2 separate regions of the Homo sapiens genome follow, and region 1 is linked to region 2. Evidence: fine-mapped expression QTL. A gene starts in region 2. The other region holds a variant in brackets. All regions are shown on one strand. Distances are between the middles of the regions. Region 1 overlaps RTF2 (replication termination factor 2). Region 2 holds the start of RTF2 (replication termination factor 2).

The links. PIP is the estimated chance that this variant, and not a neighbour inherited with it, causes the effect. A credible set is the group of variants that fine-mapping cannot tell apart.
Region 1: its variant is the best candidate, but not a certain one, in a credible set for the expression of RTF2 in lung (TOPMed, PIP 0.79).

Annotation. Positions count from the first base shown.
Region 1 is chr20:56,516,462-56,520,854 of GRCh38, reverse strand. It overlaps RTF2 (replication termination factor 2), which reads right to left. Exons shown (of 9, transcript NM_016407.5): 7 at 3,866-3,920; 8 at 3,654-3,749; 9 at 1,406-2,768. The coding sequence ends at 2,590. It also overlaps the pseudogene GCNT7. Among named protein-coding and RNA genes, the nearest start is that of FAM209A, 6.1 kb to the left of the region's middle. The variant T/C (reference allele first, on the strand shown) is at 2,010.
Region 2 is chr20:56,466,343-56,470,735 of GRCh38, reverse strand. It overlaps RTF2 (replication termination factor 2), which reads right to left and starts at 2,109. Exons shown (of 9, transcript NM_016407.5): 1 at 1,970-2,109. The coding sequence starts at 2,038.

The sequences.
Region 1 (4,393 bases), 50 kb before region 2:
ATAAAAGCTTGCTGGTTTTGCGGCTCGGGAGCAACACAGAACCTGCTGACGTGATGTCACCCCCAGAGACCCAGCTGTAAAATTTCTCTCTTTTGTACTCTTTCTCAGACCGGCCGATGCTTAGGGAAAAGAGAAAAGAACCTACATTGAAATATTGGGGGCTGGTTCCTCCGATACTGTGGGAAATTGAATAGATGCTATTTTGGAGAATTTCAACATCTTTTCAATTTTCTCCTCCCAGCTCCCTCCTTGGTGGAAAGCAGCTTGGGTCCTGGAGGTGGACGGAGGAGGAGGGAGAGCTAGGAGATGCCCCACTTTCCTCTTGGGCACAGCACCTGAACCCGTGGTCTCGGCGCCTGGGTGGGAGCCTGCCCCAGCCGCCACTGATTCCTTCATTTGGTACGGACTGAATGGGGAGAAGGTGCGGTGTGGCCAGGCAGAACTGTCATTCGCCTTGCTGCTTTGGGCCTCAGGCACCTCACCTATAAAGTGGGGGATGGCCATCTTCCCATTGCACTGGGTGGCTGGGGAGTCCCAGGGGAAGAAGCCTGTCAAGTGCTTGGCTGCTCAGTGAGCCCTAAAAATAATGCGAATGATCAGCCCTCCCCAGCCGTTGGTGTATTGAGGCCTCATGCCCAGCAGGAGCACAGATCATGGATACCTTCTTCCCTCAAGCTGGCCAGGAGCCTTGAAGAGTGGTGCCTTAGCAAAATATTAAAGGCTGGCTAGAAATCTCCAAGGAAACCCTGATCCCTCCTGCATGGATGGTCCTGAGGGCAGCTGGAGGGAGGCCCACAGCCTGTTTATTTCAGAGAGGCCCAAAGCAGAGGACTTTGAGATGCTGTAATTTTTGTGTTGAGGATGCTGTGACTCAGTTACCAGAAAAAACTGGACACAGTCAATACATTCAATGCAAAATAAAACTGATTCAGGCTAACATTCAGAAAACCGAACCTGGTAAAAATAATGGTCATTAAAAGAAAAGGGGGCCCAGGCAGCGTGGCTCACGCCTGTAATCCCAGCACTTTGGAAGGCCGAGGCGGGCAGATTGCTTGGTCCCAGAAGTTTAAGACCAGCCTGTGCAACATGGCGAAACCTCATCTCTACAAAAAATAGCAAAATTAGCCGGGTGCGGTAGTGCGCACCTATAATCCCAGCTACTCGGGAGGCTGAGGGGGGTGGATCACCTGAGCCCAGGAGGTCAAGGCTATGGTGAGCCATGATCATGCCACTGCACTCCAGCCTGGATGACAGAGTGAGACCCTGTTTCAAAATTTAAAAAAAAAAAAAAAAAAAAAGGGGGAAATAAAAACAATGAGAAAATGGTTGAGTTTGGCTGTATAGAAAATTGGGGAAATTAAATGGCTAATCCAGGTTTGTTCTGGAAAAGTCCATGACAAAAACGCATCACTTAATTTTTATTAAAATGCTCTATACTCACAATGTCAAAATATCCTTGGGGCCAAACCTTCCCATCAACTGTGAAGCCGGGAACCACACAGGGTTTGAGAAAAAGCAGGGCCACACATGGTTCTCCCTTGCTGGCCTCTCCCTGGAGTTCTGCCCACGTGTCTGTGTCTCCCACAGAACCTGCCTGTTCACCTCCCACCATTCACCTCCCACAGCTCCTTCTGCTTCTGAAGGAAACCCAGGGCCCCGGGGTCTGTATAGAGAACCAGTCACTATCTCAGTCATACCACCGTGTGCAGAAAGCCACGCAGAGGCCTGTGGCTCTTGGTTCTTCATTAGGAGTCTCATGAGAAGTTTCACTAGCTATTGACGTCAACACAACTTATAGGCAGATAAAATGCACCTCTTTTTGGGTACGATTCTCCCTTTACCATCTGCTGGAGGAGAGAAGGGTGGGTTCTTCTGACTTCATGGAATGACTCCTGTAATCACCAATGCAACGGCTGCAATGTTCTTACCCAAGCATGAGCAGAAGGTAGAAAAGATAAAAACACAGAGGAGAGAAGAGGCAGACCAGCTTTATTTTTGAACCCAATCAC[T/C]GGGTGCCCAACTATGACTCTGCTATCTTCGAAATGATGAGATGGGGCACACTCCCCTAACAGTATTTAGCTAGACCAACAAGGATCCTGGCTCCTCCCAGGGCTGTAGCAGAGGGACGAGGCCCTTCGAAGCTTCTAGTGGGCACAGTGTATTTGAAATCCATCCTTTTTAAAGCCCAGTTTCACTTGGCCTACTTGATTTATTGCTGGTAGCAAGATCATTAGAATTTTAGTTAATTAATATGTGCCAACTCTGCACCGGTGAGGACTCTGGAGTCTCTTGTTACTGCAAGCATAAAAAGTGCAGCCCACAGGGCTTCCTGGCCATGGAAAGGACCAAATGCACCTGCAGGTGGAAGCAAGCATGACCTCGGGCCACTGTGCAGCCCCTCCCATGTCCCCCCTGGAACCGACACGCCTCACATCAAGAGTGGCCACACCAGCTTGAAGGCTGGCCAGGACAGCTTTATGACACAGAACTATAGAGAGAACACACAGCAGCGCACTCAGAGGCACAAAGCGACCTGCCTACGTGGAAACTAAACAACCTTCTGGGGCAGGAGCGGTGGCAGTGCGGGCTTCAGAAGCAGTAGGACGTGTGGGTGACCCAGTGGGCAGACTCCTCCTTGGAGCGCTTGGCGGAGCTGTGAGTGGTAAAGAGGGACTTGTAGGCCTCCGATTCTTCACTGTCAGCGATGGACCTCTTTGTGGCTCCACACGGAGGCTTCCCAGCTTTTCCAGAAGAGCTCTCATTCATTGCTAGAAAAATGAAGAGCCAAAACTGTCAGGGTTGGGATAAAGATGATTCTAAACTTCGCATCCTCAGAAGGGAAGCCCATCAGTCACTCTGTCCCAGACGTTCTCTTGCTGGCTGTGTGAGTGCTGGCGGACGTCATCTTAATTGCCAACTCCAGCAAAGCAGACACAGCACAACACATCTATCATTTACTGTCTTGCTCTGTCGCAGACACTGGTCCCAGCCCCGTGAATGACTTAGATTGTCCTGATGAGGCAGGGCCTGCGTTCCAGGGGAGGAAATGGGCACAGGAACCTGAGTGGCTGTCCCATGTAGAGCCGGGATGGGAGCCTGTCAGCCACCCTGGATGCTACTTAGAGCACAAGATCACACACTCTTAACAATGAATCTGTATTTTTCTTTTTGTGAAATAAATGGTATTTTCTTTGAGTTACAGAGAGTGAGTTTTAGGAGAAACTGATCCTTGGTCAAGAGGCAGCAGAGAGGGGACTCTGAGAGCCACACGTGGAGCCCATGAAAGCCCCAAGAGTAAAGAAACTGGGGGCATTCCCCGCAGGCCCTGAGCCACAGTCCATCTGACAGTCTCTGTGCAACATCTGAGCCAGTTCTCAGCGCAACCTCTTTTGCTTGGCACCAAGCACTTACTCGACAGGAATCTAAACAACCAGCATTTGTGCCCAGACCCCATCACTCCTGCCACGGCTCCTGATGAGGGTGTGTTCAATATTTCTTAGTTACCCCCCTAAAGAGAGTTCAGTGCACTCTCTAGAGACATGACATAGGACAGGCTTGGGCTTCCCATCCACCCACTCCAGTGAAACCTGGACTCGGCCACCTGGGTTTCCAGCCTTCTCGAAACAGCTCCCTGTAGCTACAACAGGACCCACCTGTGCTTTTGGGAGCCAAGTTGGTTTTCTTCTCTCTAGAATCAAGGCTGGCTTCTTCAGGCTTCCCTGTCTTAACTTTTGATGGCCCTGGGGCTTCTGTAAAAGAAACAAAGTAGGCAAAGCAAAAACAATGCAAAACAAAGCATGAACATATTAGCAGACTGCCCTAGAGTCGCATTTTGCTAAAATAAGGATCTCTTGAAGGATCTTACCTTCACTGACATCTGGTTTTGAAACAGACTCTGCTGCCTTGGGTTTCTTTGTTTTCTACAAAAAGATAGAGAATGTTGGAGGCTGTGCTCAGATTCACTCCACTTCAGCGTCAGTGTGGCTGCCCATTGTCCCGGGTGCCCTGTCTGACTGACCGATGCTAGTCACATGAGACAGACAGTCACTCTGAAGAAGGCTTTTGATGTTCCGTAACTCCTAAAGCCTTCACCCTCTGCATGTGACACCAGTCATGCACTTCTGCCTCACACAAAAATGTATCTGCACAGAGCTGCTCACTTTTATATTTACATCTCCCAAATCACATTTGCAAAAATTTAAATGAGGCTGACAGATTTCAGTAATAAGGGCCAATGTTGATGGTGACAACTGTATACAAAAGCGCACTTAAATGAGTAACACAGAGTATATATGGGTATGTGAAGTCCAGCCAGCATAAACACCAACTAAATCTTGCACATTCCACTAACTTTTTTTCAAAGCTGTCAAACTGCTTTGGTATTTGTTATTCA
Region 2 (4,393 bases):
ATTATTAACTCCATGTCCAATTCCTCTTCTCCTCCCTGAAGGATGGGGGTGAGGTGGGGCTGAAAGTTCCAGGCTTCTAATCTTGGCTTGGTGTTTCTGGTGACCAGGCCCCATCCAGGAGCCCACCAATAATTGCCTTATTAGAACAAAAGATGATCCCGTCACCCAGGAAATTACAAGGAATTTAGGTGCTCTGCGTTAGGAACCAGGGCAGATTTCACAATATTGATCCGAAATGTAAGCTCCACCAGGGCTAGACTCTGCCTTGTTCACTGCTATATCCCTGGGGCCTACAACAATGTATATATGGTAACCACTTATTAAGCATTTGTTGTGTGAATAGTTATAATAAAAATCCATCCTGCCTAGGCATTCTGGCTTTTTTGAATCGCTCTTCCTTCTTTTCTACCCTCTTCCGACACCTGTTTCTTGTCAAGCCTTTCATTAAGCTACTCCTTTTCAGCCCTGGGCACAAGAAAACAAAACTGAGCTAAACACTTTTTTGGTGAAAGCCAAAAAACCACTCATGAATGCTAATTATCCAGCATTCGCCTGTTTACATGTACGTATGATCAGAGGGTACACTTCATCCTCTTGGGTATTCATTCATTCCCATATTCACACATACTTATTAGGTGTCTATTATGTGGCTGACACATGGTAGGGGTTACAGAGGTAAGACACACAAGGTTCCTGTCTACGTGGGAAAGAGACAATAAACAACACAGTGGTAGGCACTGTTAAGAAGAGAAGAGAGAATATTGGAAGTGAGGCACATTTCAGTTACAGTGGACAGATGACATTTGAGTAAAAAACTGAATGAAGTAAAGAAACTCATCATGTGACAATCTCAGTGAAGAGTATTTCAGATTGATGAACTCACACTCCAGGTTGAAGAACAAGAGGCCTGTTTAGCTAGAACAGTATGAAAGAGGTGGAGAGGGGCAGAAGATGAGGTCAGAAACATAGGCAAGGTCTGCTCAAGGGTCTGACGAGATTTTATTCTTAATGTGATGGGAAGCCACTGGAATGCTTCAAATACAATAGTGACTTAAGGGGTTTACCTTTTAAACAAGCTCTCCAGCTCCTGAATCAGAATACATGAAGTCTCCACGTGTGCTTTACAAATATTTTTGTAAAGAAGTCTCTACTAGGTGCTTTACAAATATTTTATCATTAAAAAGTAATTACTTGTGCTAACTTTGAAATCCCAAATAAGTGGATGGGAATCCTGGCTTCACTACCTACCAGCTGTGTGATCTTAGTCACCTTAATATCCCTGGACTCAATGTCCCCGTCAGTAGCAAAGAAATTATTATAATTTCCTCGATTACTTGTGAGATCAGGGATTATTCACTCATTTGTTTATTCGAAATATTTAGTGTGCCAGGAACCATGCTAGTTGCAGAGAAAAAAAGGGTACAGCCTCTGCTATCAGGAACTTACCGTCTAGCGGGGAAGACTTGATACAAATCAACCACGTACAGCCGTGTGCAGGCTAAGACAGTTTATAAAAGGATGTGGTAAGGGAACAGTTTGGGAAGGCTTCTCTGAGCAAATGAAGTTAGTGTATACAAAACTCAGTATACACTAGGTATTTGTATTATTGCTACTAGTCGCAGGTAGGGTTCAAATCCTGGCTCTGCCATTTACTAGCTTTGCAAATTTCTCCTTTTGAGCCTCAACTTCCATGTCTGAAAATGAGGACAACAGTATGTAGCTATAGGGCTATTGTGATAATTACATGAGATACCCCCTGTTAAGATTACTGTCCAGTGAATGGCAATAGTCAGCACCCATTGAATGTCCACTCTTAATACTGTTGTTAATTTTGAGTCCTCTGAATGGAATAAAAGACCGCAGCCAGGTCTGGAACTCCGCTGGCTCCCCCTTCTTACTTCCTCTCGTTTTCTGGGGTCGTCAAATTCCCACCACCCCCGGTCGCCAAGAGCCGGCCCACATCACTGACCTTCTCAACCTTCTTCGGCCCCTTCACCAGTTCATGCCTCTTGGGGATTGTTCCCCCGTCGCAACCCATCGCAGGACGGGAGTCAGAGCCAGCAGCAAACCCCCAAAGCTGTCACTTCCGGGATTTCCGGCGAAATCCGCAGCCACTTCCGGCGCACCGCCGTGACGCAGCACGCTGGTCGTGGCGTAGCGGGGCGGGGCGGGGCGGCACGCTAGGCGCGGCGTAGCGGGGCAGGGCGAGGCCGTTACCAAGTGCCGGTTGTCATGGAGAGCGTCGCTTGGAGGCTGGGCGTGGGCGGGTTTCCTCGTTCCCGTGAGACCCTGGGTTTCTGCTGCACAATCGGAATCACTCGCCCACGCTCCGGGAGGGCAGCGAGGGCGTGGGCGGCCCGTGCGCATCCACCGCTCTTTGACCCTATCCCACGCCAGCTTGTGTGGCTGCGGAGCGGGCACATCCCTGGACTGAGAGCGCCTTGAGGAAAAGGGCCGCCCTCCTGTTTCTGCGATTAAGGATGCCTATGAACGGAATCTGCTGTATCAATGGACATTTTTGTGTTTAAAAGGAGAACGCATCTTTCTTGAGCGCCAACTGTGACTCAAGCACTCACAACAAATCTTGTGAAGTGATGTTACAACAGATTCTAGGAAGTAAGACCCTCCCTTAAGGCCTGGAACTTTCTGGTGTTGCCATGCATATTGTAGATGGCATGTGTGTGAAATTTTGCATACAGTTTGTGCGTGTGTGTATTTCATTCACAGTTTCCTGAAGCCCAGGCTAAAAAAATTTTATTAACAATCAAGTATCATTAATAGACGATATAATAGTTCTTATAAAATATACACTGATGTTGCCATGCCCGTTCCAAGAGTCAGGCTGTATTTTATCTATAAGAACACAAATCCCTTGCTAAAAATTCATGATTGTCTGTCTGCTCTTAGGCGATTGTCTATCTCTCTGTTTGTTCCTTTAATTATTATAAATATTATGGGAAAGTGCCTATAATCCCAGCACTTTGGGAGGCCGAGACGGGAGGAGCACCTGAGCCCAGGAGTTCCAGGTCAGCCTGGACAACATGGTGAGACACCATCTTGAAAGAAAAAGAAAAATTAGCCAGGCGTTGTGGTAAGCTTTTGTAGTCCTAGCGGCTCCGGAGGCTGAGGGGGTAGGAAGGATTGCCTGAGCCCAGGAATTCAAGGTTGCAGTGAGCTTATGATTATGCCACTGCACTCCAGCCTAGGCAACAGAGCAAGACTCTGTCATTAATATGTATGTATGTATGTATGTATGTATTTGTACATATATATGATGGGAAAATTTCTCCATTGCCAAGAAGGCAGATCTTTATGATTGGATATTACCCTATTGACCTACGTGAAACATAAAAACGCTGAAAATATTTTTTACTTGGGAAGAGTTGCCCAGAAAATACGTGGATGTGGAAACTTCAAGGGCTATATGTAAGCTTGGGGTACTTGTTACTGTGATTAATGAGAATTTTAAAAAATAATCCCTTTAATTAGTTGGTCTCTGATTGATTTATGATTTATTTCTATGCTAACCACAATAACTGTAAGCTCTATGAGGGTAGGGACTTCATTTTGTTTTGTTTTGTTTTAGACAGAGTCTCGATCTGTTGCCCAGACTGGAGTGCAGTGATGTGATCTCGGCTCACTGCAACCTCAACCTCCCAGGATCAAAGCGATTCTCCTGCTTCAGCCTCCCCAGTCGCTGAGATTACAGGCGCCCGCCACCATGCTGGGCTAATTTTTGTATTTTTAGTAGAGACGGGGCTTCACCGTGATGGCCAGGCTGGTCTCAAACTCCTGATCTCAGGTGATCCACCTGCCTCGGCCTCCCAAAGTGCTGGGATTACAGCCGTGAGCCACCAAGCCCGGCCAGGACTTTTATTCCACATTGTATCATCAGTGCCTAGAAGAGTCTTTGGCACACTCAATATATGAGTACATTTCCTCAGTAAACCAAAAGAAAGTACAGATTCATTGAGAAAGGGGTGAAAAGCCTAGTTTTGGCAGATACTAAAACTGGTTAGTACTATTAGAATTCCATTTACTGGTGAGGAAACAGAAGCGTGGAAAGATCAAATGACTCCTTCAAGGTCACATAGGCAGTGAGAGACCCGGGAATGAGTGCTAGGATTAGTTCTTTCTCACAGCAAAGGAAAGAAAGTCAAATACAGAAGAGCAGAAACACCAGCATCTTTAGAAAGACTCAAACCAGTGTTCTTTTCTCATTTGGGGAAGAAAAAACAAAAATAGCGGCTCTTTATTAAGCCATGACCATGCGTGCACTGAGAGATTTGTAGGCATTTTTTCACTTTGGGCTCACAATAACCTTAAGAGTTAGAAGGTATAATCCCTCTTGTTTTACAAATGAAAACCCCAAGACTCAGATGTGCAAGTTGTC